2 separate regions of the Homo sapiens genome follow, and region 2 is linked to region 1. The links come from fine-mapping of genetic effects on gene expression. A gene starts in region 1. The other region holds a variant in brackets. All regions are shown on one strand. Distances are between the middles of the regions.

Evidence for each region.
Region 2: its variant is fine-mapped to the expression of MYH15 in lung (TOPMed, PIP above 0.99). The same link has a PIP of 0.9 or more in sun-exposed skin and unexposed skin.

Annotation. Positions count from the first base shown.
Region 1 is chr3:108,503,081-108,520,620 of GRCh38, forward strand. It overlaps MYH15 (myosin heavy chain 15), which reads right to left and starts at 7,516. Exons shown (of 41, transcript NM_014981.3): 1 at 7,363-7,516; 2 at 2,643-2,749. The coding sequence starts at 7,450.
Region 2 is chr3:108,403,621-108,416,390 of GRCh38, forward strand. MYH15 (myosin heavy chain 15) reads right to left here. Exons shown (of 41, transcript NM_014981.3): 30 at 10,612-10,808; 31 at 6,963-7,312; 32 at 4,660-4,784; 33 at 1,718-1,833. Among named protein-coding and RNA genes, the nearest start is that of MYH15, 100 kb to the right of the region's middle. RefSeq lists enhancers at 3,207-3,306, 3,367-3,426. The variant C/T (reference allele first, on the strand shown) is at 3,147.

The sequences.
Region 1 (17,540 bases):
TGAGGAAGAGGAATCCTGGAGCCAGGGAGATAGTGAAGCTGGGGGAATGGGACCTTCATTACATCAAAGAAGGACAAGCAGGACAAAATAAACCACCTTCAGACTCTTCTTTCTACCTGCATTAATGGCCTTTTCTTCCTATGGTTGTAACCACATTATAGTCACAAATCACCTTAAGTGCTGTTGAAGGGACAGTAGTTTGTTTTGGAGAATGTGCTCAGAAGAGCAAGCCTCACATCTGGAGGCCTAATAAAATTTAGTTGGTCATCATTAAGAAAATGAAAAAATACATAGACTGAGAGAAAATATGTACAAATAATACATGTGGTAAGGGATTTGCAACCAGAAAGTAAAAAGAACTCTTACAACTGAATAATGAAGAGGCAATAGCCCAATTTAAAAAAATGGGCAAAGAGCTTGAATAGACATTTCTCTGAAGGAGATAAACAAATGGCCAATATGTACATGAAAAGATGCTCAACATCATTAGTCACTGGGGAAATGCAAATAAAAATCACATTAAAATACCACTTCATGCCCAATAGAATGGCTGTAATCAAAAAGAAAATAAAATGTGTTAGTAAGGATGTGGAGAGAGTTTAATTCTTATATGTTGCTGGTGGAAACGTAAAATGGTAGCCACTTTGGAAAGCAGTATGGAAATTTCTCAAAATGCTTAGTATAGAGTTACTATATGATCCAGCAATACACTCCTAGCTATACACCCAAGAGAAATGAAAACATGTGTCCCCACAAAAACTTGCACATGCATGTTCATAGAAACATTATTCATAATAGACAGAGCATACAAACAACCCAGTGACAATCAACTGATGAATGGATGAACAACATGGTATATCCATATAATGGAATACTATTTATCCATAAAAAGGAATGAAATATTTATTCATGTGACAATGTGAGTGAACCTCAAAAACATTATGCTTAGTGAAAGAAGCCAGAAACAAAAGGCCACCAATTATATGCTCCTATTTATCTGAAATTGCTAGAATAGGCAAATCTATAGAGTTAGAAAGTAGATCAGTGATTGCCTGGGGCTAGTGCAGGAGGAAAGAAGGGGGAGTGACTGCTAATGGGCACAAGATTTCTTTGGGGGATCTTTTCTAATAAAATATTGTCCCAAGGCTAAGTGACCCTGATTGAGTCTATTTCTTAGTTTACTGATTTAGGACTAAGGAAAATTTCTTGCTGAATTTTCCCTTGTCCACCTATTTATGTTCCAGTTAAAAAGCACCAAGTTCTTTTCTTAATTTCCTGAAGAGTTAAATAACATCTACCTAATTTGAGATTTTTTTACGTAACAGATATTGACTGTCAGGAAGACATATGAAAGCATTCTATGTGGTAGTTTATGAGTGGCTTCCAGAATTTTAAAAATCAGATGGCAACATGTTAGATCGTAAATTGCCTAAAAACAAAGATAGCATTAAAAAGACAAACTTTCTCGATATCAATAATATCTGTTTGTTACAGGATGTGGCTTGTTATGGATTTGGGAAAAGGAAGAATTTAAAGGAGTTTAGAGAAGTGAATATTGGCAGGGAATCATCTGTAAAATCTATAAGGAAGAGTTCATTTAAGTAGGACAGAAATGGGGCCCGGCTTACACCACGGGGTGGCAGGTAATGTGAAGTCAGCAATGTAGGCAAAGGTTCTGAGAGTGAGCTGTCTTCTCAATGTTACCCTGCTGCTCTGAATGCCTTGGTGGCAGGGAGAAGGGGCTGGCGGGTATTATGGCTTCACTACACATTTCTTCTGTGAACCTTACAGTCTAGCTTGTACCCCAACACTTGATATAACCTTTTCTTACAAAGGTCATAGATGACCTCCTAATTCTGAAATCCAAGACTTTCTCCAACTCTTAATCTTCTTCTGTGGCATTTGTCATTACTGGCCATTCCCCCATCTCTTGGCTTCTGTGACACTATGCCATTTTTACTCAAATTATACATCTCATTCTTGATCCTACAAACACAGCTTGCTTCGTGGTTCCTTAAGTCATTATTCACCCCACAGGATACCTTTTTTTAAAAATACTGACTTGAAACATTGATGAAAAAGTAGAAATGGCTGTGAGTTCTAGTCAATAATCCTTGCCACTGGCAATTGTTTTACTCTGATTTATTCACTGTTCTTCATTAAATCTTTGATGGTAAGTGGAGTTTTTTTGTTTGTTTGTTTGTTTTTGGTGACAGGATCTCACTCTGGTTGCCCAGGAGTGCAGTGATGTGATCTCTGCTCACTGCAACCTCGACCTCCCCAGACTCAGGTGATCCTCCCACCTCAGCCTTCCAAGTAGCTGGGACTACAAGCATGTACCACCACGACTGGTTTATTTTTGTATTTTTTGTAGATACAGGATTTTGCCATGTTGCCCAGGCTGCTCTCAAACTCCTGGGCTCAAGCAATCTGCCTGCCTCGGCCTCCCAAAATGCTGAGATTACAGGCATGAGCCATTGTGCCCACTGACTTAAGGAGGAGCTTCTTAAAATGAATGACTCCGAAGTGAGTCAGTGGCATCTCCTACCCCAGATCTTTAATTAAAATATTATAGAAATAATATATTTAGTTATTTGATAGAGAACATAGTCATCACTGCAATGAAATAAAAATTTCTTTACCTCTCCATCTGCTGTCTCAACAATTACTGTTCCATCATCTTCACTCCCTTTTACCTCAGCCTCGATATAAGCATTCTCACCATCAGGAATCCAGCATTTCTTCTTCCCTGTAGAGCAAAAAAAAAAAAAAATGGATTATAGCTATAGTACTTACAGAAATACATACTGGACACTTTCATACTGATAGATCTAATCTCATTTCTGCTAAATCAGCTTGTTGACTACAGGAACTTGCAAAGTCAGATAAAATCATGAAAGCTCATTCTGAAGATACACTCACTCACATAATGGCACTACAGGAACAAGAAACATCTCAGCAAGCAGCAGCTTGGGGGCACCATAGACCATTTTGCTACAAGAAAGTTACCTCCCAACACCCCTCCCAACCCCAACACTTTCCTCCACTCACACCCCAGGACTTTGGTGGTTGCCCTGGTGCTTGCACCCCTTCCAGATTCCCTCCCCCGAGAAAACTCATTCAGAAAAAGTCTGGGAACAACTAAGTGAAAATTTAGATTAATGGTTATGTTCTTCAGGGTTTCTTTAGACCTTATTTCTAATCTTGGAATGGAAATCAGCTAAGTGAATTACATGGTGGAATTGGCAGGGGGGCAGGTTGAGGAGAGAGAATATGGGTTGTTTTTGTTAAACAACATAACCGGCTCATATTATTTCCCCCAATATGTTATTTTTCTCTCTTCAGCGTCCTCAGTTCCTATACCCCATCCCTAAGCAAAGTAGCCCTCCATAAACTGATTAACCAACAAGAGGTCTGGGGTGAAATGAGCCAGAACTCTTATGAACACCTGAGGCAGCTTCTCTTTCTCTCCCAGTTGAAGCAGATAGACAGTGATGATGAATAAAAAATATGATTTTAAGGGCCTGGGTGCAGTGGCTCATGTTCATAATTCCAGAACTTTGGGAGGCCAAGGTGAGAGGATCTCTTGACCCCAGGAGTTCAAGACTAGCCTGGGCAACATAGCAAGACCCTTTACTCCCCCAGTCCTGTCTCTACAAAAAACAAATAAGGCAGGGCACAGTGGCTCACGCCTGTAATCCCAACACTTTGGGAGGCTGAGGCGGGCAGATCACGAGGTCAGGAGTTCGAGACCAGCCTGGCCAACATGGTGAAACCCCATTTCTACTAAAAATACAAAAATTAGCTGGGCATGGTGGCGTGTGCCTGTAATCCCAGCTACTCAGGAGGCTGAGGCAGGAGAATCACTTGAACCAGAGAGTCGGAGGTTGCAGTGAGCCGAGATCGTGCCATTGCACTCCAGCCTGGGTGACAGAGTGATACTCTATCTCAAAAATAAAAAATAAAGAAATAAAAATTAACCAGGTGTGATGGTGCATGACTGTAATCTTAGCTATTCAGGAGGCTGAATGGGGAAGATCACTTGAACCCAGGAGTTGGCTCATTTTCTTTTAAAAGCATATTATATATATGTGTGTCTATGTATGTATATGCAATATATCATACTTTCCTTTTAAAGGAAAATGAATATATATATATATATATATATATATATATATATATATATATATATATATACACATATGAAAATGAGCCTTAGTAGAAGCTCACAGAAGTCCCCAGGTCACAGCTACTCAGGTACATGGGGAAAGCCTTTGGCTGAAGGAGGGAAAATGTTAGCCAATGGCTAGGGAAGACACAGGTGAAAACCCCACTATAACCACAGCACTAACAGGTAATGCGAACTCAGTCACCAACCATCACCTCCAATATATGAGTCACAAAAGCTAGAGAGGGCTCACTGCCGCAGGACAGGTGGTCCTTATTTCCCAGAGGAAGGCAATAAGACTGGGGAAGGAGTGTGTACAAAGGAGCTGAAGTTGGGCACCATTTGCCCCTTCTTCCACCATGCTTGTTTCTGCAAAGAATTTGGTTGCTCACGACTTTCTTGCTATCAGTGCTGCCTTCTTCGTTTCCCTGATTACAAACAATTCACCACTAAAACTGCTTGGCAAGAGGAGTTTATGTTCCCATCTAGCTGATTGTGCATTTGCTTTCTACTTATCATTTGTGTTTTAAATACTGGCTTTGCATTGTATTCATTATTTTGGTCCCTTTTTGCAAAAACTGATTTTGCTTTGTGTTATGTCTATGAAAATATGCTTGTTTTTGAAAAGCACCCAGTTAGCATACATTTTGTGTGTGTGTTTAAGGTAAAATGCTCTGCATTTTAAACCAAATGTTATCACTTGAAAGAAACTTGAAGGTCACCTGGCACAGTCTCTCTCCCTCTGTCTCTCTTTCTCTTTCTTTTTAGAAAAAGAACCTTGGGAGAGAGATGAAGAGAGTTGCCCATAGTCACATAGCTAATTAGTGGCAGTCACTACAATAATGACTCTAGAAATGAGATCATCCACCTCCTGAATCAGTGCTCCTGCATTACAGCCTGCCTCCTCTAACACATTCTTAGCTTTTTCTCCTCCAATTCTTCTCTCCAGGAGTAGGCTCACCACCTGCCTCATGATGAAGTCTCTCTCTTACCACCCCTGGAAACACTTAGTGGGGAATAAAAATTATCAGAAATCCTTTCTCATAGGAGACCCAAACCCTGACAGGGACATTTTAAAAAATGAAGTAAATGAACTCTGTCAATTTTAATTCCTGGTGTTCATGAATAATGCAGAGCTGGAAATGTAGATAGCAATGGATTTGAGGGAGGCAGCCAGGATTTTAACACTGGCTTTGCTGGTAAAAAGATATAAAGCCACATGACTTCATCTCTTTTGGCCTTCGTATTCTCATCTGTAAAGTAGGCCTTTTTCTATATGATTCCATTTTTTAGACAATTAAATATCTTTTCCAATATAAAGCTAATATGTGCTTATTGAAGAAAACTTGAAGAATAATGTATGAAGAAAAGAATGTTTTTAATCACCCATAATCAAACAACTCAGAGATAACCACTGTTATGTATTGAAGCATTTCTTTTGAATCTTTTTTCTAGGATATTGATTAAAACAGGGGTAATACTATATTCAGTCTTATAGTTATTTTAAATAGATCGCTTACATGTTCTAATATAAGAATTATTTACATTTGGCTTTCGAATGGTGTTTTGTCCTAGCTCTACAACCACCTGGGCTTCTTCACTGTCACCCAGGAATTCTAGTTTTCCTTCTCGGGTATCATAATAATGCATTATATTTATTTTTCACATTTATAGTCTCATTTGGTCCCCACAGCAATGGAGGAAGGCAGACCGGACAAGTATTATTATCTCCTTTGATACATGAGGAAACCAGGGCTCAATAAAGTGAAGTGATTTGCTCTAATTACCCAGCCAGAGATGGTCAAGGACAGGGAATTTGATCCCAAGACTACCTGCTAAATACTCGTCATCACACTACTTCCATTTGACCCGAGTTCAAAAAAGCAAACTCCATTGTCTACCAGCCTGGGAAGATGAACAACTTTTGCTAACACTTGTCTCTGCTGCCAGTGCATTTCTATGAGGAAGGATTGTTTGGTCCAAAAAATTAACAGGAAATTATGTAGATTGCTATGTTTTAAGTAATTATTTATGGTGCTGATTTTAATAAATGCATCATCCAATTATCTCTAATGCTTAGGCTCAATTTTTTTTTCTTCCTGGCATCACTATTATCTTGTCCTCCATTATCTAACTACCTGCGATAAGCCTCTGCATGACCAGTTCTGACCTCAGGGATAGTTCTGTTATCGTATTTGATTTGATGGATTATAATTAGCCTAAAATCCAATCACAGTCATGAATCCAATGACTGGAAACTGGGAACTGATCCAGGACTGGTCTGTGATGGAAATATAATATCCTCCATAACTGGCTTGAATTATAATTGGTCATATTAAAGTCTAATGTTGACTAATTCTGAATACTAGAACGACATTCAGCCAGTCCTTATGTTGCACTGCTGAATAATTTTGGATTAAGACATGTAGGTAGCTTCATGTTATATCATACTGTGAATCTGATTTCTAAATCTCCAATTAGCTGAAATTCAACACAGACATGTAAAGGTAGCAGGAAAAAGAATAACATTTATTTAGAGATTTCAATGTAGAACTTAGCCTTTTTTTTTTAAGGCTAAATCCTCATTAACCTTTGTCCTTGCCTGTAACTACCAAGGAATTATGAATCAGGGTGAGCAAGTCTCCTAATTACCTTTTGCTTAGTGTTGGCTGAGTGACCCTGCTGACCTAGAAGACCGCTAGAGGCAAGGCTCCAACATCAAAAAATTCTGGAGAGCCAGAGACAACTTCAAAGTCTGCAGCCTTACCAGAGTCTTTCCCTTTCTTCTTCCCCACAATGTACAAACCCCACCCACCAGTCTAAGTCACAGGCCCCTCTCTCTACTGTGGCATTCACTGATAACTAAGAGGTTTCTAGGAAAGGCTTTGTCTGGCCATTCCTGCAGGTGTCTGTGTTACAACAGGGGCTCCTTGAAGAGAAAATCTGTCTTAGGATCAAGTGTGTAGGGCCCGGGCCTAGACTGCCTCCCAGCCACCCTCCTCTTCTGTGGGTACTTCCATTCCTACCCTGGATACTCAGAGGCCCTCAATTGCTCAGTTTCCTAGAGGCTGATCATACCCTAAGCAAATAAGTTAGGCTCTAGAACTGATGGCTCTTCTCTGTCAATCAAATATCTTAGTCACCATCTTGAAGGAGCAAAATAAAGTGAAGCCAGCAACCACCACATGTCTCACCATCCAAGGCTGTGGCCTGTAGTAGAAGCAGCTCAGCTTCACTTCTTCTGAGGAAGGCTGCGGCTTCTCCAAGGTCTGACAGATCCATCTTTATTAAAGCAATCCACCAAAAAAAGGCCCTAAACGTGAGTAGGCAAGATTCAACCTGAAAAAAAAAAATTGATACAGAGAAGAAAAAAGTGGAAATAAGGCATCAAGCTCTAAATGAGCAACCATTCACATAGATAGACTAAAGAGTGTTAAGTTTTCCTGTAACTACCTGTGCCCCTTCTTTCTCTTCGCTATGTCTCAAATTTATACAAAATTGGACTCAAGAATATCTGACTCTAGCAGGGCTGACTTACCCACTAGACATAGAAGGCACAGTGCCTGAGGCCCACAATGCTTTTAGGGGCCCATGAAAATGTTTAATTTATTTTTAAATCAGAAGAAAAATATAAAAGTAATATGAATGATACATATTAATGAACAGAGCCTGGATTATATTCATCTTTAGGCCAACACAGTTATGAAATCTGATTTTTAATATTTTTTTGTGGAGAAATGGTCCTTAAAAGACAGAAGTGCCTGTAGTCAGTGAAAGTCATAATGCCACCCTGCGCCATGGAGTTCTGACAGGTGGTAGGATATTCCAGATGGAGAAACATCAAGTTGCGGACACTAGGCCTTTGATAGGCGTGGAGGGGGGTTTCGAGGTATCTAATTACCCCCAAGCAGACAGACCGTTATAGACAGAGTATGGTTACAAAGAGAAGTGATTCAGATAAATGTTCAGTAATAGACAGTAAAGGGATAAAAAGATAAGTATCTTGGCAGAGATAAGTGTCTGGGAGCAAATGATTTACAAAAATACAGGCACAGCTGGGCATTTGGGAGGCCTGGCCAAGAGCAGTAATGAAGAAGCCCAGGCTGAAGGTGGCAAGCAGGTTACATGGTGATGTGAGTGAAGCTGGAATAAATAAAGAAGTTCATTGGCTCAAGCAAGGCAAGTATCAGTCTTAGAGGGACTAAGTTGCTGGACAAATTACCAAGGCTGAAGTCACTGAGCACCCACTGTATACCAAACACTGGACATAGTTTATCTTTAATTTTCACACTTTACATTTGATAACAGGGAGAAGAAGAAATGGAAACTGGGCCTTCATGATCTTAAATGAGAAGCTATTCTCTCTATTTGGACAAAAAAAGTCTTCCTCTTCACTCAAGCATGCAAGGCAAGTGTTACTCATCACATTTATAGGTAAGAAGGTAGAGAAGGACTTGCCAAGTTTGCTTAGCTCAGGTGCTGTCTTTGAGGACAGATCAGCACCCACTTCAGAATGAACTGTAATCACTTACTATCTTGCAATGAACAAATCCAATAAACTAATGTATTTTACTGCACTTAATCTGCTCTCTTCTTTGTGGTGGCTTGGATAGGTATAGTGATACCACTTGTAGGATCTAGTTTAAAGGAGTATGATTTAAAGCAAAGCCTACTGGTTCAGGCTAAGAGTTAGTTTTATTTCTGCCAGCAAATAGGCATGTGACTTGTGGGAAATCACTTAGTCCCTGTAGATGCATTTTCCTCACCTATGTAATGCAAGGACTAGTCTTAATGTATAGGAACATTTCCTAAAGTGGAGAGAAGAAAAGATGCTCAAGAGAAACAACATAAATGATGGCCCTCCAGAGATGCGACTGAAGGCAGCATTTCTCAGGGAAAAAGACAAAACTGATTTTTCTGCGGGTGAGCATTCAGATTCAGGTTTTGTAATCATTATAACAGCAATAACATTGTTAGACATCTGAATATAGAAGAACTCAAGGTAAAGGAAAGCTCTGAAAATAAGGCAGAGAAATTTAGAAATAGATGGTAGGAAACATCATCAACTCTGTGGGCAGGAACATGAGGAAAGCAGTATTTTGGGAAAATGGCTCTGGTGGCATATTCTGGGTAGATGAGGATGAGGAAAAGCTGTAGTCAGGGAGACAAGTTGTGAGTCTGGATTTGTCTGGGTCCTCCTCCTCTCTGTATGTGTGACTTCCTAGTGGCTTGCACTCAGTAGACAGTAGAGCTTGGGAAGTATATTTGGAATATAAAAGATATCCATTAATACATGTGTGTACAAACTTCCTGAAACATACCTAAGAAATGGATGTCTGTCTGAGTAGTGAGAGAAGGAGATGGGTGGGAGAAGGAGAGAACTACCTTTCATTTCATTCCATTCTAGTCTGTCAATGTGTGCCATGTGCTTATATTTCATAATTAACAGATTTTTTACAAGTAGTTCTTATTATAACATCAGAGATGAAAAGATCACAGCAAAACAGAGCACACAGCTGTGTAACTCTCCTTCCAAGTCTGGAGCATTTAACATATTTAAAGGTGTACAAAGAACAGAATGTGTAGGAGCAGGCACTGGAAAGTAGGAAACATTAGGTGCCAGGAGTGGGGCGGGCCTGGCAACCATTTGGAGATAGGTAACTGAAGCCAAGAGAATGATTCACCTGAGCAAAAAAAGGATCGAAATCCTTCTATCTCCTTGGCCCCATCCAGCTTCCATTAACCCCCTAATGTCCTACTGACCTCTGGGTCCCTTTAGGTTCCAGTTGCACATATGGCTTTACAATTTTATAGAATAACACACTTGTCACAGCCCAGTCCTAGCAACATCTTAAAATAGAAAATGAAAGAGCCCGAATGCCCAAAAGAAGTAAACAAATTAACCTTGCCAGCAAAAGAATCAGGAAGCTATATTTTGTGAATGACAGAGAAACACAGATGAGTATAGAACTGAAGGTAATTCTCTTAGAGGAAAAGTTCATCTACATGTTGAAAGGAAATTATATTTGAGACTGGTATACTCACACATGTTTATCGGAGAATTCTGACACCATGATAAACAAACTTGTATCTGATACTGCATATATTTACAAGACAGAAGAGAGCAGGGGGCAGCACTGGAATCCTGGAAGGAGAATAGGAAAGGATAGGGCAGACGGGCTGCATGCACAATGCTGGGAGTACCTCACTTCTAGGACCTAGCTCTGCCTTTGAACATTCAGGAGCTTGATTTATCAATACATACTGATTAGGTTCTGGGAATCACATAACTATGCTCAGAAGTGTGCATACAATTCATCACCCAAACCTGGACCTATTTTTTCTTACTGGGATTTTTAAGAGGGGATGCCATTAATATTTAAATCAGGACAACAAACTTAATCTAAGACTGACCCAAGTGAATAGGGACATATGGACACTCCACTAATAAGAGAATTGAGGACTTGAGATGGCAATTTCTAAACTGACAATGAATGTACACATTTTCCATAACTGCAAAGTCCAGGTTACTTGTCTGCATGATCCACAGGGCACATAGACAACGTCATCACTATCAGAAGGTTGGATTCGGAGAAAGACATTAGATCATCATGTACATGACATAATTCAGTTTGTAACACAGCAAAATAATGCATCCTGTTCTGTTCTAGAGTTCACCTTTACAGGGACTGAGCACCATATAAGCCATCCGTATCCTGTTTATATTGATACGGCACAATTTCCAGGTGTATCTTAGTTACCAGTTGATAAAGTAAAGACAAAGAATGGGAAGCCCTTACTGGGAAGGGAGAGCTGAGATGTAAGCTTTTCCTCTTAGCCAAGAAAGAATCATGTTGGTCTGACCTAGCTGCCTTTCATAAAAAATATGTTTGAACAGCTGCCAGCTGAGACAAGTCACGAGCCCAGATGACCAACCATCCCTGTCTTCCCGGAACTGAGGTATTTCCCAGGGCTTGAGATTTTCAGTGTGAAAACCAGAAAAGTCCCAGGAAAACTAGAACAAGTTGGTCAACCTACTTTTAAGTGTAGTGCCTGTAGTTCTTTTAGAAATTCAGTCACAATTTTGGAAATTAGCTATTTTTATACTGGTTGTATTTCTGCAGCTATCCCCCTCTCCCTCCTCAGGTATTTTGCAAACACCTTTTTTGAAAACGTCCTTTTCAAATATACGTTTGAATATATTCATGCAATATATATGTATTGCCCATCTGTAATTGCCCATGTTAGGCCCAGGGGTACAATAATGGGCAGAATAAATACTGTGCCCTCTTGGAGTAATAGATTTGAATAGGGATAGAAGTTTCTTCTGTCTTGAATTATTATGCATTAGACAAATCTGTAGAGAGAAATTTTCACACTTTGGGGTGGGGGGGTGGAGCTGGTCATATGGCAAAGTTCAGAAAAGAAGCCCAGAGGGGGACTGTAGCAGTGAAGGGAAGAGGTAAGCTTATACAGCCACGACTCCTAACTCACTAGTCTGAATGGAAACTGTAGGCAGAGTTATGTTTTCTTAAGATGAGAAAACACGTTCCTCACATTATTGTTTCACAGGCTCTTTCACTGTCTCATTCTCTGCCCACCATTCCAATGGAAGGGTCTCATCCTGGAGCCTCCTAATCCCCTAGGATAGAACCCTTGGAGGCATCTCTAATTTTCCTTCTATCTCATGCCACATTCAATTCATCGTCAACTTTTATTGATAATTAATTTTATTGATAATTAATTGTATAATTACCAGTTCTTATCCACTTTTAGACGACACAGTTTGGAGTGCCTGTTGAGCCCACACTCCTATTAGAAGTGCCTGCTCTCATCCACAGGAATGAGCCGCAAGTAGCCATGTCTGTAAGGTGACACTGGTGTCCTGGCCCAACTTATAAACCAGGCTTCAGTATCTGATCTGGGACAATCAGAGACAATCAGGGTATCCCCCTGGAATACAGATTTGGGATTTAGATGCCACTCTCCATCTGGGCTCTTTGCTTGAATGGAGTGATGCAAACTTGAGGGTTGAGGTTGGCATTGTGGTGTGGTCACATGGTGCCACATGCACGCTAATCAGCAAAAGCATCCATAGAGAGGGAGTCACAGGGATGAGGAGAAGCAGCAATAAGGGACCAAAGGAAGAGAGAGATCACTTTCTTATATCTCAAAGACCCTTCCTGGTAACAGTACCTCCTGAGACCTATATTTAATTTCTGCCTTTGATTTCCATAAGCGCTCTCAATGACCTTCCAGTACATTCTAATTTCTTTCCCAACTTTAAATAATCTGAAGTGAGTTTTTGTTATTTGCCATCAAAATATCCTTAACTAACGCATTATGTCTCAGTCTCTGTCCCAACAAAGTTTCTTAGTTTCTCTCCTAAGATGATGTGAAGATTGTGTATAAAACTCAGCACATTGTCTGGTGCATAGTAAAACCTCAATCACTGTTAACTGTTCTTTTTACTATTCAACAAGCATTTATGCAGTCTTTGCACACTGTGCTAAATATGTAAGACAGTAGCTTTGCTTTCCAAATTGCTTATTGAATCTGAGATGTGCAAAATCATAATGGAGGATGGTACCATGGGGAAGTAAAGAGGGAAATTCACATAGTGGCAGCTACTAGCTGAGTAGATGGAGGTGAGACAAGGGAATTGTCTATTTAGATGGTGATCGCTCCTGAAAGGTCACACTTTCTAGTCTTCTTACTGCTGACCACAGTAAATCTATCACTCAGCACTCATCTCTTTCAATCAGAGCTAGACAATAAATATGGGGATGAGGGGGTGCAGAAATTCATTTCACCTTGGCATTTCAGTGCCTTAACTATAAGCAGAAACTCAAATGATGCCTATGAAGTAAATTGTTAAAAGAGTTAAACTCTTTTCATGTTAGCAGTCCTGACACATTTTTAAGTCGGTTTCATCATAATTGATTAGATTCGCTTGAGTTCTTCATCAAGGTACGTTATTATGCATGTTTACTTTCAAAGCCTTCTACTGCTGGGAAGCCATGATGCAAGTAATAAGAACAAATATTAATATTCCTTTGAGTAAACAAACACTAAGCATCTTTTGACATAGCCTCTTCCATTATTAAAATTGGAGACAATGCCTGAAAATGAGAATGGATTTATCTAGATGTCAACAGCTGAAGGGAAGAATTATCAAGCACTTAAATGATCCCAAACAAGCTGAAACATATGTCTTAAGGCAGTAAATGAAACACATTTGAGTTACAAGGCCCAGTGAATGCCACAAATCTGGGGAAATGCTGCAAGATGCTCCTAATTAGGGACACTACTAGGTAGACAAATGATGCTGCTGCTTCCTAGTATTCATGCTGCTGGGATAATCATGTTATGTGCCTTAACTGAGCAAGGTTTCCTCCATAGAAAATCTTAAGTGGTTAGTCTTTAGGCACACATCTACCACCCCTTAACCAGCTACGCTACCTGCAATTTATTTATTTATACGCAGCTTATTTCTCTACAAAAGCAGGGGTTTAGGCAGGTTTATCTTCTTCAAAGAGGAATGTTAAACGGTTGAATTACAAATCAAGAGTATTGCACAAATTATTGATTATTTAAAGCATTTACTTCAAAGGGTGATTATTATTACAGCTATAGGTCTCCAGGCAATGGAGTTTACACTCCTAGATTCTGCTCCCCGCTCCCCTCCCACTGGGATGTGGCTTTTCCTCCCATCCCTCCACAGAAACTGTTCTTTCTAATGATCTCCTGAAGAGAAATCCTAATTGTGTGCTTTTCAGTCTCTAATCCTACTCAACCTCTCTGCAGCATTTGACACTCCCTGGTTGCTGGGGTCCCTTCTTCCTTTTCTTCTCTTTCCCAGTTGTTCATTTACTAATCAAAGGTCCATCCACAATACAAATTGTGAGTATCATTGACATTTCTCTTTTGCTCCCTCTTTTCACTAGTTTCTATCTCCCAGCGTTTGCTGGCTCTTTAATCCTTTCAGAACTACCTTCTCCTACACTTTACTACCTCCCAATCTCTGATCAAAATGCTGGATCTCTGCACTGAGCTATTCGCTATTGATCCAGAGAAGAACTTCTGATTAATTTTTTTTTTGAGACGGAATTTTGCTCTTGTTGCCCAGGCTGGAGTGCAATGGTGCAATCTCGGCTCACCGCAACCTCTGACTCCCGGGTTCAAGTGATTCTCCTGCCTCAGCCTCCCAAGTACCTGGGATTACAGGTGCCCAACACCATGAATGGCTAATTTTTGTATTTTTAGTAGGAATGGGGTTTCACCATGTTGGCCAGGCTGGTCTTGAACTCCTGACTTCAAGTGATCCACCCACCTCGACTTCCCAAAGTGCTGGGATTACAGGTACCCACCACCATGCATGGCTAATTTTTGTATTTTTAGTAGGAATGGGGTTTCACCATGTTGGCCAGGCTGGTCTTGAACTCCTGACCTCAAGTGATCCACCCACCTCGACTTCCCAAAGTGCTGGGATTACAGGTGTGAGCCACCGCACCCGGCCACCTTCTGATTAAATTCTGTCATGCATTCATTTTAAAGTATGTCCTCTTAGGATCTGTGGATTAAAAGAGTAATAAGACCTCAAGAAGTTTCCACTCTAATGGACATGGACAACAGAGATATAATCAGTGACTATAATTCAGTATGATAAATGCTAGGTGCTAGGATAGAGCAATGTACAGGGCCATACAGGTCAAGGAGGCATAACGCTCTCATCTACATTTGTATTTTTAAGAATAACAGTTTACAACTTAAAGGAAGGAATCTCAAACATCCCTGAAATGATACCTTTGGAAACAGTGCCAATATACTATTTAATAAAAGCAAATCTGAGTTCTGAGTGTGTATCACACACCAGGAACTAGGTTAAGTGTTTTATACATAATAACTCTTTTAACTTTACAGTAGCTCTATGAAGGATATATGTAATAACCTTTATTATATGAAAACACTGAGTCTCAGAGAACTAGCAAGTGTTATCTCTAGTTTTAAATCCAGATACATTAAAGTCATTCTTGTTTCCTACTTTGTTCACCTTTACATCCAATCAATTGCCAAGCTCTGCTGACTCTTTCTAAATATCACTCAAAACCATCTCCATCTTTCCATCACCCCTGCCAACATCTGGATCAAGGCCATCATCATTTTTCTGGGGGCGTATTGCTGTATTCTCTCAGTCTCCCGACAGCAGCCAATCCAGAATGAGGCCCCCAAGTAGAGAAACACAGTTACTGTACTATCTTATTTAAAATCATTCCGCATCCTATGATAAAAGCCCAACATGTTAACAGAGCCTATAGAGCTCTCCATCCTCTTGCTTGACTGACACCCACACCTCATCTCTCTTGCTGTCTCATCCCCAGGCCTGACCTGGCTGGGGCACTACTAGTAGATGCCAACAGCACTCTCTGACCTCTGGGTGTTCACACGTCATGTGACCCCTGCCGGGAACATTCAGCCCTGTCCCTCATCTGGCTAATTCTTAATCATCCTTTGGGTCTTCAGTAAGCAACATTTCTACAAGAAGGTATTCTCTAGGTTCGTTCTGTCAGCTAGATGTGTTCTTAGATTTCTTTGCTACTTGCATCATGATAATTTTCATCCTATTTTATTATTATTTGTTTAATTGCCCATCTTCCTAATGAAACATAAGTAATCTGAGGGCAGGACTAGGTCTGCAGCACTCAGAGAAGACTCTAGTTCTTTGGGTAGAGCATTAATAAACACGTAGGGAATGAACCAACAAATAGAGCAGACCCATCAGTCTGACTCCTGAGTCCTTGCTCTTAAGCATGATGCTATACTTCCTCCTTGGCTGAGCTCCAGCCAGCAAGGAGGCTGATGTTCTTGGTTAGAAAAGCATCTAACCAAGATGCAACATGTCCATACAGGCAACATGTCCTTGGTTTAAAAAGCATCACCACTTCATTTTTAAGTTGGATGAGAAAAATTTAGATTTGTGGTTCAAAAGAAGTATGCTAAGGATAAAAATCAACTGGTATACCATATCAAGAAAACCAGACTGGTAAGGAAAGATTTAAATAAGTAGTTTATTTTTAAAATAAAGGTATTTAAGTCAATACATCTGAATTGTATTGCTCCAAGATTTTTGAATCCATGGAGTCTTAGAACTAAAAGTTCTTTAATAACAGCTGGCTCATTGCTCCATATTTTACAGGTGAGTATGCAGGGACCAGCAAAATACATGATTGGCTCACATTCACCAACCAATAACAATGGAGCAGGCTGAAAGTATGGATAGTTTTGAGCAGAGTTGAGAGAAAAATACTGATGATAGCTCTATGAAGAGAAACTGAAGGAAACTAAGATCGAGGGCTATACTTTTGTGCTTCAGAATTCAAGGCAAATATACCCTCCTATAAAATACTAGGTAATACCACAGTCAACGGAATAAAGATTAGCTGAAATGGAACATTGTCATGATAATATTCCTTAGGGTCAGTGACCCACGATCTGCATAATAGAGTAACACTTACTTTAGAATTGCAGGTGCTGTTATTCAGCACAAAAGACATGCATTAAATATATTTAGTGATTCTAAAAGATGATATATAAATTCAAGGTATTAATAGCATTATTTTCATCGATTTATTGGTTTCATATTTTCTGAATGTTCTTAACTCAGGATAATTATGAGTTTTAACTAAGTACAATTGTAGTCAACATCTTTGCATAATAGATATTCAGATACACTTATCTAAAATAAAACTAGAATATTATGTATTCCAGTTCAATTAAATATAACAATTTTTTGAACATTCAATAAGTGCCAAGAATTGTCAAAATGCTTGGGATACTAGAATAATTAAGATGTGGCTTCTGTTTCAAGATTTAAGTCTAGCAGGGACCAAGACTTGTCAATATAGTTTTCAGTATGATAAGTAAAAGACATACATTCTCCAAAAGATTATACCGAAAGTAAAACAAATTGCTGTTAAAATTCTCACCTCAGAGCAACTATTCTATTCTATGAATACACCATCTTTTTCTTAAAATATTTTGTTTCGTATAACAACCCCCATGCGAAAACTATCAGTAAAAATAGCAAATTGTTTTTAATACCCACTATTCAATGTATTGGTGGAAAAGGGAGAGATAGAAACCTACCTTGGAAAGATCAAAAGAAATGGGCAGACCAGTGCTGAGTCAAGACTTTATACACTCTTGTCAAGGTCAAGGATGACAGCTTCAGTCAACTTTGCCATTGTTTCTAAATTTGTCTACTGGTTTTTAAGAAGTTGAACCCTTGGATCTGGATTTGGCACCCCAAATGTCTCTGAGGCAAGGGTATGAGATGTCAGAAAACGATCCCATTTCTATAACCAAAATCCGC
Region 2 (12,770 bases), 100 kb before region 1:
GGGTCTGGGCTGGTATTTGTGATATTTTGTAAGATAAGCTCATCTTTTCTTTCTGGATCTACCTATTATAGTTATTATGAATCATTAACTAAAATTTATGAATAGCTCACCCCCCTGCCTCCAGTCCACCCCTTCTTTTCTCAGCTCCTCATGGCTCATGCTTATCCTTCAGTTCTTTCTTCTTCCAGCCCTAGCTCTTTGGATCTCTGGCTTTTTTTCGCACTAAGATTATTATAATTGGTGAACTGCTCTACGACATTCAGATGTAGCTGACGAGACACAGGCTCTCTGAGGATTCATTTCTCCTCAGCTGGGTTTATTTATAGGCACAGGTCTGATATTACTTGAAATCAGTGTTATTTGTTGCTTTTTTTTTTTTTATCTGCACAAGGAGACATTCATTTTTATTCCTTGTGGAAAGAAGTAGGGCAAATATCAAGGCCCAGGGTTTTTGCCCTTCATCAAAAAAATTCTTTTAGACACTGACTCAGAACCTCTTAAGTAGATCAGAATTCCTCGCCACAGTCAGTCCTGTAGAAGAAAATGCCAGTGAGTGAGAGCAAAGATAACTCAAAGCACATAGAAGGCCAAATTTGGCTTGACACCCTCATTAAAAAATTGACCCCCTTGAGAGTTTTGTCTAAAAATGGGCTGTGGGAAAGAGGTCAGTTCAATTGAACATGTTAACAGGGTTTTTTTTCTTTTTCTTAAAAAAAGACTGTTTAACAAATACATTGAAAGTAAGTTGCCAGTTGAATCTCAGGCTCAAATGATTTTTCTTGCTGACATATGGCATTGACTTAAGGGAACAGATTAGATAATATAATCATCGTTAATTCCATGTGTTTATAATTGTGCCTTTGATCTACAGCGTGTGAAGTGCTTTGCCAACATCAGCCTACTGATCTTCCTCACCACCTTCTGTGACATGTAGGGACTGCTTTTATCCCCTCACTTCACTGAGAAGCTAAGAAGTGGAATGTCTAAAGTCATCAGCTTGTTATGACAAAGCTAAGAAAACATTCTGCAACCCATGAGTCCTGTCTAATTCAGTTTCCTGACTATTAAGACTCAGCTGCTTTAACAAGGATTCAATAAGCAGCTTAGCTCTTGGCTTCTGCTCCTCTTCAAACAAATGGCTACAGGTACAGGCAGGGGGTATGTGAAAACTTCACTCTGGTCTGAAAGTACAGCACTGAATTTTTTAATTTTTTAATTTTTTTCTCCATGGCTCAGCATTTTCAGTCAATTTCTTAATGCCCAAGAACGTGGCATTATAGGGACACGCAGACAGTATGCACAGTCCTTATACATATAATCATTTATTTGGTGTTGTCTTGAGTCTCACATGACAGTAGAAGCTCCTCAAATATAAGAAAATTATAAAATCTGGCAATAATCGTATATAGATAGCTAGTAAGCTCACCACTATTGATATAAAGGAATATCTGTACACAATTGTGTATAAAGGGATATCTAATTGTGTATAAAGGAATATCTATACACAATTGTGTATAAAAGGATATCTAATTGTGTATAAAGGAATATCTATACACGATTATAGATATTGTATATAAAAGAAAATAATATAGAGTTACACTAAGTTTCTTTGGTAATGCTCCAACAGGGGCCATAAAAGCAGCCAGACATAATGAGCTCTGTTTAGTCAAGGATTCAGAAATACATAATTGTTACACATCAAAATCATCTTAAATACCTAAAATTTTCTATTTCTTCATCTTTCTCTGAAAGCTTTCTTTCAAGTTCTGCTTTAGCTTCCAAGAGTTCAAGCTGGAAATGAAGAATCTTGCTTTCATTACGTTCCAGGGCTCCCTGGAATACATAAATAAAAAGCATTAAATGAAGTCCACTTTTAGACAAAATTGTATTTTTTACCCAAAACATATGTCGCTAATGTAGCTCTCTTAGAGTTACTGGGAGAGATATAGGTTCAAGCCAGGTCCCTAGAGATTGCAACACAGTGAGACAAGCAACTGCTTTCATTTGTCATTTCACTTATAGATTTGACATTCTTAGGTCTTTCAGCTGTAGCTCCAGAACTAGAATTTTAAAGCCTATTTTAAAATAGAAAATTTCACTCTTGTCTGTGACTATATTTAAACTTTTTAATGTATTACCCTTGACTTTTTCTAACATATTCCAACTTTGGGATAAATTTTAAAAAGTATCAGAGCTAGAACAAGGAAGGTGATAACTCCTACCTGGAATCTTCTATTAAATTCTGGACATCACGAGGGGATAGAGGAAAAGTTGGATGTATTCAGAGAACAAACAACAGGGTAGTGTCCAAATATTGTCATATGAAGAACAAATAAAGGAATTTACAATGTACCTGACATGTAACACTCAGTGTGAGCCATTAACACCATAATTGGTACCACTACTGCAAATGAATTTCTTTGACAGGCAGAAGATTCCTTGCCCCTTTGTGTATTCAAATATAGTTAAGGCAATTATTTGCAGGGATGTTATAAAGGCAATTCAATTCTAAAAGCATAGGTTTGGCTAAATCTTTAAAACCCGTCCTGAAGCTAAAAATGTATATAAAAGAAGAAATCCAAAAAACACTTACAGAATACCAAGGATATAAGGGCATAAGGGGTGATGCAATTTTGTGGTCAGTTAGCTACAGGCAGTCCTAAGGGCAGAAGTAATTTTTTCATAGCCTCTTTTGAGGCGTGCTTAGCAGATATGACAAAATGTAAAAAAGTAAAACTGAGTTGCAATTTTAAAATAAAAATAAAAAGATGATGGGAATTTTAATAAGACCTCCCTTGATGTTATCTTGATACTACCTTCAATATAAAAGAAAATAAAATTGCTAACGCACACTCAAAAACAAATGCTTGGATAACAATTTCCTCAGAGGGAATAGTGTAGTAGTTCCTTCAAGAGGAAACTGTCACCTCTAACCCTCTAAAATGCACTGAGAAAGTGAATCTTTAGGGAACATGACCTGGGATAATGTGAGTTTTATGGCTTTAAAAAAATCTGATAAAGTTTCTCATAAAGGCTCACCCAGGAAAATAAATAACGCAATGTTACAAATACATGTCCAAGTTGATGAAGTATTTATGGATGTGGCTGAGGACAGAAGTGGAGAAAATGCGAATAGAATGTGTTGC[C/T]ATCTAGTGGTACTAAGTGGTTTGAGCATTATGGCCTTCCTGTCATTCTCACCCTTGACCCACGTGATGATCGACTGAATACACAAAGATGCCTCTGTGTTATACAGGACATAAATGGCCCGTGCCAGTTGTATTTTTCATTGGCTTGTCATAGTACTTGAAATTTCTATCATAAAATTTACTTCTTTCAGTTAAGGTGGTGGCTTCAAAAAGTCCCTTGCCAGGATAGCCAGAGAACCAAAGGGAACGAGTAAACAAAACAAAGTTCACCAACTGTGTAAGGACCAGCTGTGCTACAGGGCACCACACTGCCAACGAAAAGGAGTCTGTATAAAGTTAGATAGCCTCAGGAAACATTTATGTATAACAGGGTGAGAGCTGCTGCCTGACAACTCTATACAGAGGGTAATATGGACACATTTGCTTGGAAGTTTCTTCTGGAATCACAACGGTGAGGTAAATTTAACAGACAATGCTTGGCACAGAGTGGTCCTTTGGGGTCTTGTTTTCCATCGCCATACCTTCCAAGAGACCCCTGCCTAACACTGACTGCCACACCTTTCAAAAATCTTTTTTCTTTTTCTACTGGTGGGAGGATCAGGGCTGTATTTTAATGTGTCTGAATACTTGTTCAAAGGCTGAGTCAGGAAGATGAAGTTCAGCTCTGAGAAGAGGCTGCACAGGGCTTCTTAACCACCTAAGAATCATGATAAGATGACTTCCTTGTTAGTTTACCTTCTTTGGCGAAATGTCTTCTTAGAGGTCCTTTCAATTGCTAATGCACACCCAGAGATACAGCCAGAGACTTTTCCTGAACTGTGAATCCATAACACTGAAAACCCTCCTGTCAATCTGCACAAAGATGAGCTTTCAGAAACAAATGTTTGACAACATCACTTTGAATCTTATTTCTGAAACTACCGAAAGTTTTTGGGGAAAAAAAATTGAAAAGCTTTTGTGACTGACTCTTTAAAGAGGGGGCAGCTATGAGAATATTTATTCATTCAACATTTGACAAATATTTACTGAGCCTCTACTACATGCCAGGCAATGTTCTAGGCCAGTGCTTCTCAAATATTAATGTGCATATGAACCACCAAGGGATCTTGTTAAAATGCAGATCCTGATTCAACAGAGATGGGCAGAGGGCTGAGATTCTGAATTTCTAACAGCCTCCCAAGCGATGTCCATGGGCCACATGTTGAGTAGTGAGGGTCTGGGCACTGGGGATAAACTGGTGAACAAGATAGATAGTTCCTGTTTTTACTACAATCAGGAGATTTGCATTCACTGTTGTGTATCCTGCTCTCTGAGTCTCAATTTCCTCTTTTATAAAATGGGGACAGTAGTTTCCTACGGTGATTATATTAAAATTATGCATTTGGCAGAGTGCCTAGCATATAGTAAATAAACATTTGAATACGTGTCCTTTTGTTGGTGCTGCTGTTATTGCTGAATGCAGATCTTCTGCCTTGTCACAGTGAAAACTTTCTTTTCTCCCTGGTGATAATACCTCTGTTTCTTCCAGTGTCACCTGGACTTCTGTCTTCTCTTCTTCAATTAGTTTCTTGACCTTTTCCATTTCAGTTAAGTTCTTGGTCCCTTCTCTAACCTGGTTTGTCAGATTAGAAATCTCTTCTGGAGACAGAGGTAAGAAAAACAAAGTTAGTGAATGGGCTCAGTCTCAAACCAATGATACCAGGCACAACAGATTCTTCCAGCCCACTGGAACAGTGACCTCATGCCACCCTTGGTAACTTGATGACCTATCCTATATGGGACCGAGAAATTTTAAAAGGGTATTCATTTTTTCATATAGTCTTTTGCCATCTGAAAATTGAAAATTGTCTACAACAAATGGTGAGGGTGGTGCTTCAGAGTATTGTACACTGGACAACTTTTGCAACTTTTACATGACAGTCCTGCTCATTAGAGCCATTCCAGGTTCCACCTGGAGGAACACAGACCTGGAGTCCCTACCCTTCCAGTGTAAGTGCTTAGCTATCAACATTAGTGGCTGCCATTGTTTCAGCCACCACTCAACACTGCGACAGGAACTTAAAGTAAAAGCTGGATCAATATCTGCCAGCATTCAAGGCATGGCCCCAGATAGGCCAGAGAATCAGAAGGGGCCCAAGGAAGACAGTGGCTTTAGCTCAAGCACTTGAGTGTTTTTTCCTAGCCTCTCATGAACATAAGCCTTTGACAAACAGAATAGGGCATCCAGAAGTCACAAAACCTCTTCCACCTGATATTGTTATGGTCAGTTCTGCCTTTAGTACCTAAGAGGTGTGGTATAGGGCCAAGTAGCTCAGAGAATTACCCAGTTCAGAGGTGGTGGAAGGAGCTCAATAGGTCACCTGCTCCTCTGGTTCTGAGATCCTGGGCTGTGATGTGATATGATGAGAATTTTTAGAAGTTACAAAGACAAATATGTTAGATGGAAATTTTCATTGCATAATAAATTCTTCTCTGAGAAGTGCTCTCCTAAAGATGGGTTATCAAGAAGAAAATCAGGGAAGAGGTTCTCAACTCTGACCGCACCTTAGAATCACCTGGAGAGCTTTGGAAAAAGCTCACTCAATATTCAAACCCCGCCCCAGTCCAAAGGTGGTGCCCAGATCAGCAGCACCGGCCTCACCTGGAAAACTGTCAGAAATACAAATCCTTCAGACCTACTGAGTCAGAAACTCTGGGGGTGGGCCCCAGCCATCTGTGCTTTAACAAGCCCTCCAGCTGGTTTGGACGTAGCTAAAGTTTTCTAACCACTGTTTTAGCACCCGTCACGTCTCCATCTAGTGCCTTGATCATAGACTATGTAGGTCAACAGAAAGTAAGCTTCATTTACGCCTCCAACAGTAATGAACTTGCTTCCAGGGCATCTCAGGGTTTTCATGCACATTGCTGTTGGTGCTGGGATAAGTTGGCAGCCTCTTTGAAGGGCTGTTTGGCAGTAAATCAAAATTTAAAAATTCATTTCATTACCCCAGCAATTTCTTTTCCAGGGATCCATTCTACTGAAATATTTTTACATGTGCATAAATACATGTATAGGGATATATAATGTAGGATTATTCATATTTGTGAATAATTGGATCTAAAATGAATAAAGTCTAGTTAAATGATAGCCATCTTTATTACAAAACACTATGTAGCTATTAAAAAGCTTATGGTAGGTCTCCATGTACAGGCATGCAAAGACCCACAAGGTACGTGGGAAGGTTGCACAGCTCAGTAGTTAAGTGCGTATATGCTGGAGCCGTGCTGGCTGGGCTCAAATCCCAGATCTGCGACTTATCAAATGTGAATTTGAACAAGTTACTCAACTTATGACCTATATAACCTTCATTTTACAGATGAGAAAACTAACACTAGACTATTCTGAAAATTTAACAATAAATAGTTAAACAGTGCCTGGTACGTAGTATGGGCTATAGAAATATTCATTAAATCGGGAAATATATTCATATATGAAAAAAAGGTGTAGAACAATATGCAATTTGGGTAAAAACTACACACTTGAGTATAGCACACATGGAAAATCTTGGTACGGTTGTGGATATCAAGAAATTTTCAGCACTGGCTTCCTTTACAGAGGGGAACTGAAGTTAAAGGTAGGAAACTAGTCTTACTTTTAGAATTAATTTAATACAAACAGCATCTAAAGTAAAAAAAAAATAAGTCAAACAGAAGTATAAAAATTGAAAAGTTAAAACATGTTGGGAATGTGAAAATGCTGAAGACAGCCTTGCCTGTAGCCAGGGCTCTTCCTGAGCTACCCGCTCTGGCTTTGGCTCTGAGCCCAGCTCGGTGTACCTTGGAGGTTCTTGTTCTCCCTCCTGAGTGTCTCCTGGCCCACGATGCTCTCCTCATAGGTGTTCTTGAGCTTGAGGAGCTCTGTACTGAGAGCCTGAACTTCCTTCTGAGAGGCATCCAGCAACGCCTGGGACTCCTCGTGCTTCTGCTTCCAGTCGGCAAGGGCCTTGCCAGACTGCAGCTGCTTCTGGTCCAGCCTGGCTGCTGCAGAGCGGACCTTCCCGAGGTCAGACAGGGCGTCCCCGAGCTCCAGCTGCAGCTGGTGCCTGGCTCTCTCCAAGGAGGCATTTCTGGCATTGGCCACCCCCATGGCTTCGGCTGCCTCCTGCAATCTAATTGCCAGTTCCTTCCTGAGAAAGGAGGACACCCAAAGAGTGAGTGAGGCAATAACTCTCAGAGAGCTCATCAAGTCTGCCCTGGATTAAAGATAGAGCTTGGGTGCAAAGTAAGATGGCGCCTCTGCAGTGGACTTAGTGGTATAAAGCAACAGCAGCTCCTATCTGAAAGTGACCTCACTGTCTATGACCACCATCCTCTGCCTCCTGTGTGCATGGGGTCTTTATTTTCCCCCTTTGCCAACCTGCACTTGGAACTCAGAATCTCTTTGAATTCCTACAAATATTTGCTTATCCTAAAGCTCTAATAAGCAATACTGACTTGATTATTTCCTAAGAAGGGGGAGAAAAGGAAGATTGTACTGAACACCCTACCAACAGTAAGCACCTTACAAATCTGTAGCCATATGTAGTCACTAAAGAGCTCCTTGGCTGTGTTGCTTCTAAAGAACACTCTCTTGCTTTTTCCTGCTTATTTTCTCTCATCATGTGGCTCCTCAACATGACACAATTCTTTCTTCTCTCCGAGTTTGTTCTCCACCTCAGCTCCTCTCTCCAGATTTATATTCCCAAACCCATCTCATTATGCTCACTTAACAGGTCCTACTGTTCTTATGGGGTTTTTTAGCCCCCATCTGCTGTTCCTTGGGCATCTCTGAGATGGAGTAATTTATTACAGTGCTTCTTTCTCCACCACCCCCGTAATATGCTACTATTAGGAATTCTAATGGATGAAATGTGTTCTGTTTCTTACATCTCCTGCAGGGTTGCTGGCAGTCCCATTCTTACTCATTCATTATACTTCTTAGATGAAAAGTACTGTATGTACCAAAGCTTTTTCTCATCTACTGCTATTAAACAGAAAAAAAGGTTCTCCGGAATTAATAGGACTGCATAACTAGCCCAACAGAGGAATGTGGTAATAAAGTCCCCTTTTGGTGGAATCCTGCAAAAACCCCTATGTGCTCAGGATCCAGGAAGCATCTAGGCTCTAACAACACTCTGCCCCCGGCTTCCTAGCCATACTCACTTCACTTTTCTGCTTCATGTTTCTTAAACGTTAAGAGGATATTCTGATGCTTTACCTGACTTAAGGCAGTAGGAGTCAAGTGAAATAATTACATATATTTTAACTACTTTAGAAATGCTTGTTGATAAAATAGGAGTTTCACTTTGGGTGACTGATCATACTGGACTGCCTGGGACTGAGGGGTTTCACCAGGTGATATGGTTTGGCTGTGTCCCCACCAAAATCTCATCTTGTAGTTCCCATAATCCCCACATGTCATGGGAGGGACTAGTGGGAGGTAATTTAATCATCGAGGCGGTAACCTTCATGTTGTTCTCATGACAGCGAGTAAGTTCTCATGAGATCTGATGGTTTTATAAGGGGCTTTCCCCTTTTTTATTCACTCACTTCTCTTCCTGCCACCATGTGAAGAAGGACCTATTTGCTTCCCCTTCCACCAGGATTGTAAGTTTCCTGAGGTCGCCCCAGCCATGGTGAACTGTGAGTCAATTAAATCTCTTTCCATTATAAATTACCCAGTCTTGGGTATGTCTTTATTAGCAGTGTGAGAACAGACTAATACACCAGGACATGAGACTTTCAAAGCTAAAACAGGAAACATCCAGGGCAAACTGGACAAACTGGTTACCCTTGTTTTACCAATAACTTTGTTCTACGTTTAATATCAACTACTATTTTGCTCCTTAACTTGCCAACCATAAGCACCTACTTAGTTATCTCGAATATGTAAAGGGATATTGGAAATTAAGAAACTAAATCCTTATCCTTGGGGAACTTAGAATTCAGAAGCAGTACAATGGGTCTTAGATAAGCTTGAGTCTGCTAAACTAACTCATCATTTGAACCCCAGCCTGGAAATCAAAGCAGGCAAATCTTTAACTTTAATAATAACAAAAGAAACCAGGACCCTAGATTGTTTTGTAGCTGCCTACCTCCCTGAGGTGATTTAGAGGAAAAGCATAATACAGACAAAGTTTTATTTATTCTATGTCCCACCAATTTGAAAGTAAAAAATTGTCTTCACAGAGTACCATGTTTGCCCTTTATTTTCTTTAGTTATTACATACTACAGAACTAGTTCCAACAAACCCATGTGGTCATAAAGTAATCTATATTCTTTTGCTCTTTCCTACCCAATCCCAAAAGAAACCATCAAACAGAATGATAGATAGGCAATTTCACCTGAATTCTTCAATCATTAGAAGGGGGAAAAATCTTACTTCAGAAGTAAATACCATATTTGGATATAAGAGGGCATCTCAGTTCAAAGCCAAAACTTTCTGTGGTCCAGAGTTTTGATAAAACATCTACTGCAGGTATTTTTAGTATCTGTCATTCTAAAGCCCTTTTTAAGTTACTGTGGGTACAGAGATGGATCACTTGGTACCCCTTCTGGGACAAAACACAGCAGCTGTTCAGCAATTGCACAGCAATGCCTCTCAAAGATTTAGGTGAAGAACTGAAAAACATTATTTCTGGTTGAAGCTAAAGAGAAATGTATTGATCTTCCCTGGATTTTTGCCAAGCTACCAAGCCAGGGACACATTCTTTTGAGTAAACCTTGAATGATTATAAGCTGGGGTTTGACAATTTCTCTTAAAGGTACAGTTTCCTGGCCTCTAAGCAAAATGCTTCAGTTCTATACCCTGGTACTGAGTCTCAATTCAGCTGTGCCCCAAACTTGTGTAACTCCTAAAAACTTTTAAAACCTTTACATAGAAATGGCTATAAAATTGATATTCTAATCTTAGGGGTGGCCTGGGGATGATTTCTTTTCAAAGCAACCTTTGTCCTAGAAGACATGACGACAGATCCTAACATTTTTTTCCAGCTTCCCTGTCCATCTTCACAGACTACTTTGTAGTCTACAAGTTGTAGACCAGGGACACAACGACTTTGATGGAGACACGTACACACATGGACTCAATTATTATGGCGTTACAAATGAAATACAGGGTTTTAAACGATAGCCTATTTTCACACCACGGCTCAAAGTCACATCTTTTATGAAAACTTCCCTTGTGCCCCTAGAAAGAGCCTCCTTTCTCTCCCCAGGACCTCTTTATAGTCTCTGTCACTTTGTATTATACTTTTTATATTTTTAGTCCCTCTACAGAGTGTGCTTCTTACCAGCAGTGCACGTTTCAGCTTTGGTTTTGGGCTTGTTCCTGCACTCGGCAAGGATTTGTTAAGTGCATACCATGAGGCCTTGGAGACAGAGTCATTATTCTCATACTGCTCCATGTGAGTAACTCCAGGTTAAGGATAGCCTTGCCCTACTCACTTGGCATCCTCCAAGTCTTCTGTTCTCTGGATGACATTGTTTTCATACTTCATTCTCCATTGCACCATTTCAGCATTGACTTTGGATAAGGTCCGGTGCAGCTCAGCCTTGACCTCTTGTTCTTCCTCATACTGCTCTCGTAGAAGGTCACAGTCACGCTGAGCCTTCTGCAGGGCATGGGCCAGGGCACTCTGGGACTGTAGGGGACACACATTAACAAAAAGGTCATGACCACCATGAGCAACACAAGTCTTGAAAGTAAGCTAATTTTTTTTTTAGGTAAGATTAATAACAACCTGCCACAAATTCAAGCCGAACCTGAACCTAGTAAGATAACACTAGGGAGAGAATTTGAGACAAGAGAAAGGATAGATAGTATCTAATTGCTGCCATTAAAACAGGGAAGGGAATTCTATTTAGAGAAATGCCAGCTTGGCTCTGTGGACTTAGACAGGCCTGGAATTCTAGAAATAGTGGAGAATGCAAGGATAGCAAAGAGAACATTCACTATCATTTAGGCAATAAGATTTATATTTAGCAATATATTAGACTCAGAGCTTGTTTGAACCAGAAAGAACCACTAAAATTTAGCCTTTTTATTCCACTGATGAAGAAAATAAAATCTTTTATTTCACACTGAAATCTCTAAAAACCTCAGCTCCTAATACTTCAAAATAGTACTACTGCCCAACAGAACTTTCTGTAATGGTGAAAATGTTCTCTATGTACACTGTCCAATATGGTAAACACCTAGCCACATGTGGCTACTGAACATTCAAAATATGCCTAGTACAATGTGTGATCAAAACTGAATTCTTAATTTTATTTAACTTTAATATAAATTTAAATAGTTACCTGTAGTGTAGTAGAGGCTTCTATATGTATTGGACGGCCCTGCTGGGTTTAATAAACATTTTTATCATTTAAATGGTGATCTGGCTAACCTAGCAGCATTATTCCCCAGAGATAATCTAGTGTGGAAAGAACACTAGATCCTGACGGGTCCTCAAGTGTCCTTTATGCAAATTAGGAAAAAAGCACATTTTCAGGAAGATACAGCTCTGAGGGCACAAGGTTTAGTTAATGGCAGCCTCAGCCAGACCCCTTTGGGTGGTAAATGAGGAGCCACAATACACAATGACTCTGAAAAGGATGCAGGCTTTGGAGTCAGATGAACTTGGGTTCAAACTGTGACCTCTCCTCTTGTTTAATTTTATTTTTCTTTAAAGGAAAAACTTTTAAAACCTTTATGTGGCATTTACATGGCATATATTTAATTATAGAAGTAAACAAGACAAAGACAAAATCCCTGCCCTAAAGAGCCCAAAAGAAATAAGGGGATACACAAAATACACAGGCAAATACATTAATAAATAAAATTTCTAATAGCAGTAAAACAAACACAGCAGATAAACACGATCTAGAATGTTTGGCTCCTTCTCATCATCCCTCTAAGACTTCGGTGAAGGGCCTTTAAGCAACGGGAAGGGCAGTTATAAAAGTCCTAAGGCAGGAGTGATGGTGCCTGGTTTAAGAGGCAGAAGGGAAGCCAGGGCAGCTGGAGGGGAGTAAATGAGGGAAGCAGATGTAGGAAGTAGGTCACAGAAGGAGGCTGGAGCCAGATCAGGGGGGCTTGTAGGCCAATTGGAAGTCACTGGGAAGGCAGCCAGAGAGATCTTCTAAAATATAACTCATTTCACTATGCGTTTAAGTTCCTTCACAGTACATCACTAGGTGTATGACCTTGGACATGATATTTTTCTTCTCAGAGCCTTGGTTTTTTCATATATAAGGATGCAATTCTATCTGCTTCATTTGACTGATATGAAGATTGAGATAACATGACAGAAGTATCTGGTACAATGTCTGATGCACAAACAATGATACATTTTTAAATTTGTATATAATATAGAAAGTATGGAGAGTTAAGGGAATAAAATGGTACAATATTTTAAAACAGACTCAACTACCTGTGTTTTCACAGTATACGCCTTCATAGTATGGTCATGTACAAGTAAGATAGTTTGGGGTCTTAGTAATAAGATGCCTTGACTATGAACTAAGAATTCATTTAAATATCAGGGCTCAAAGAATTCATATCTCATGTTAGTCACTATGCTTTCATCTTCCAGAATCACTTCCACTGGAGTCACCTTCTA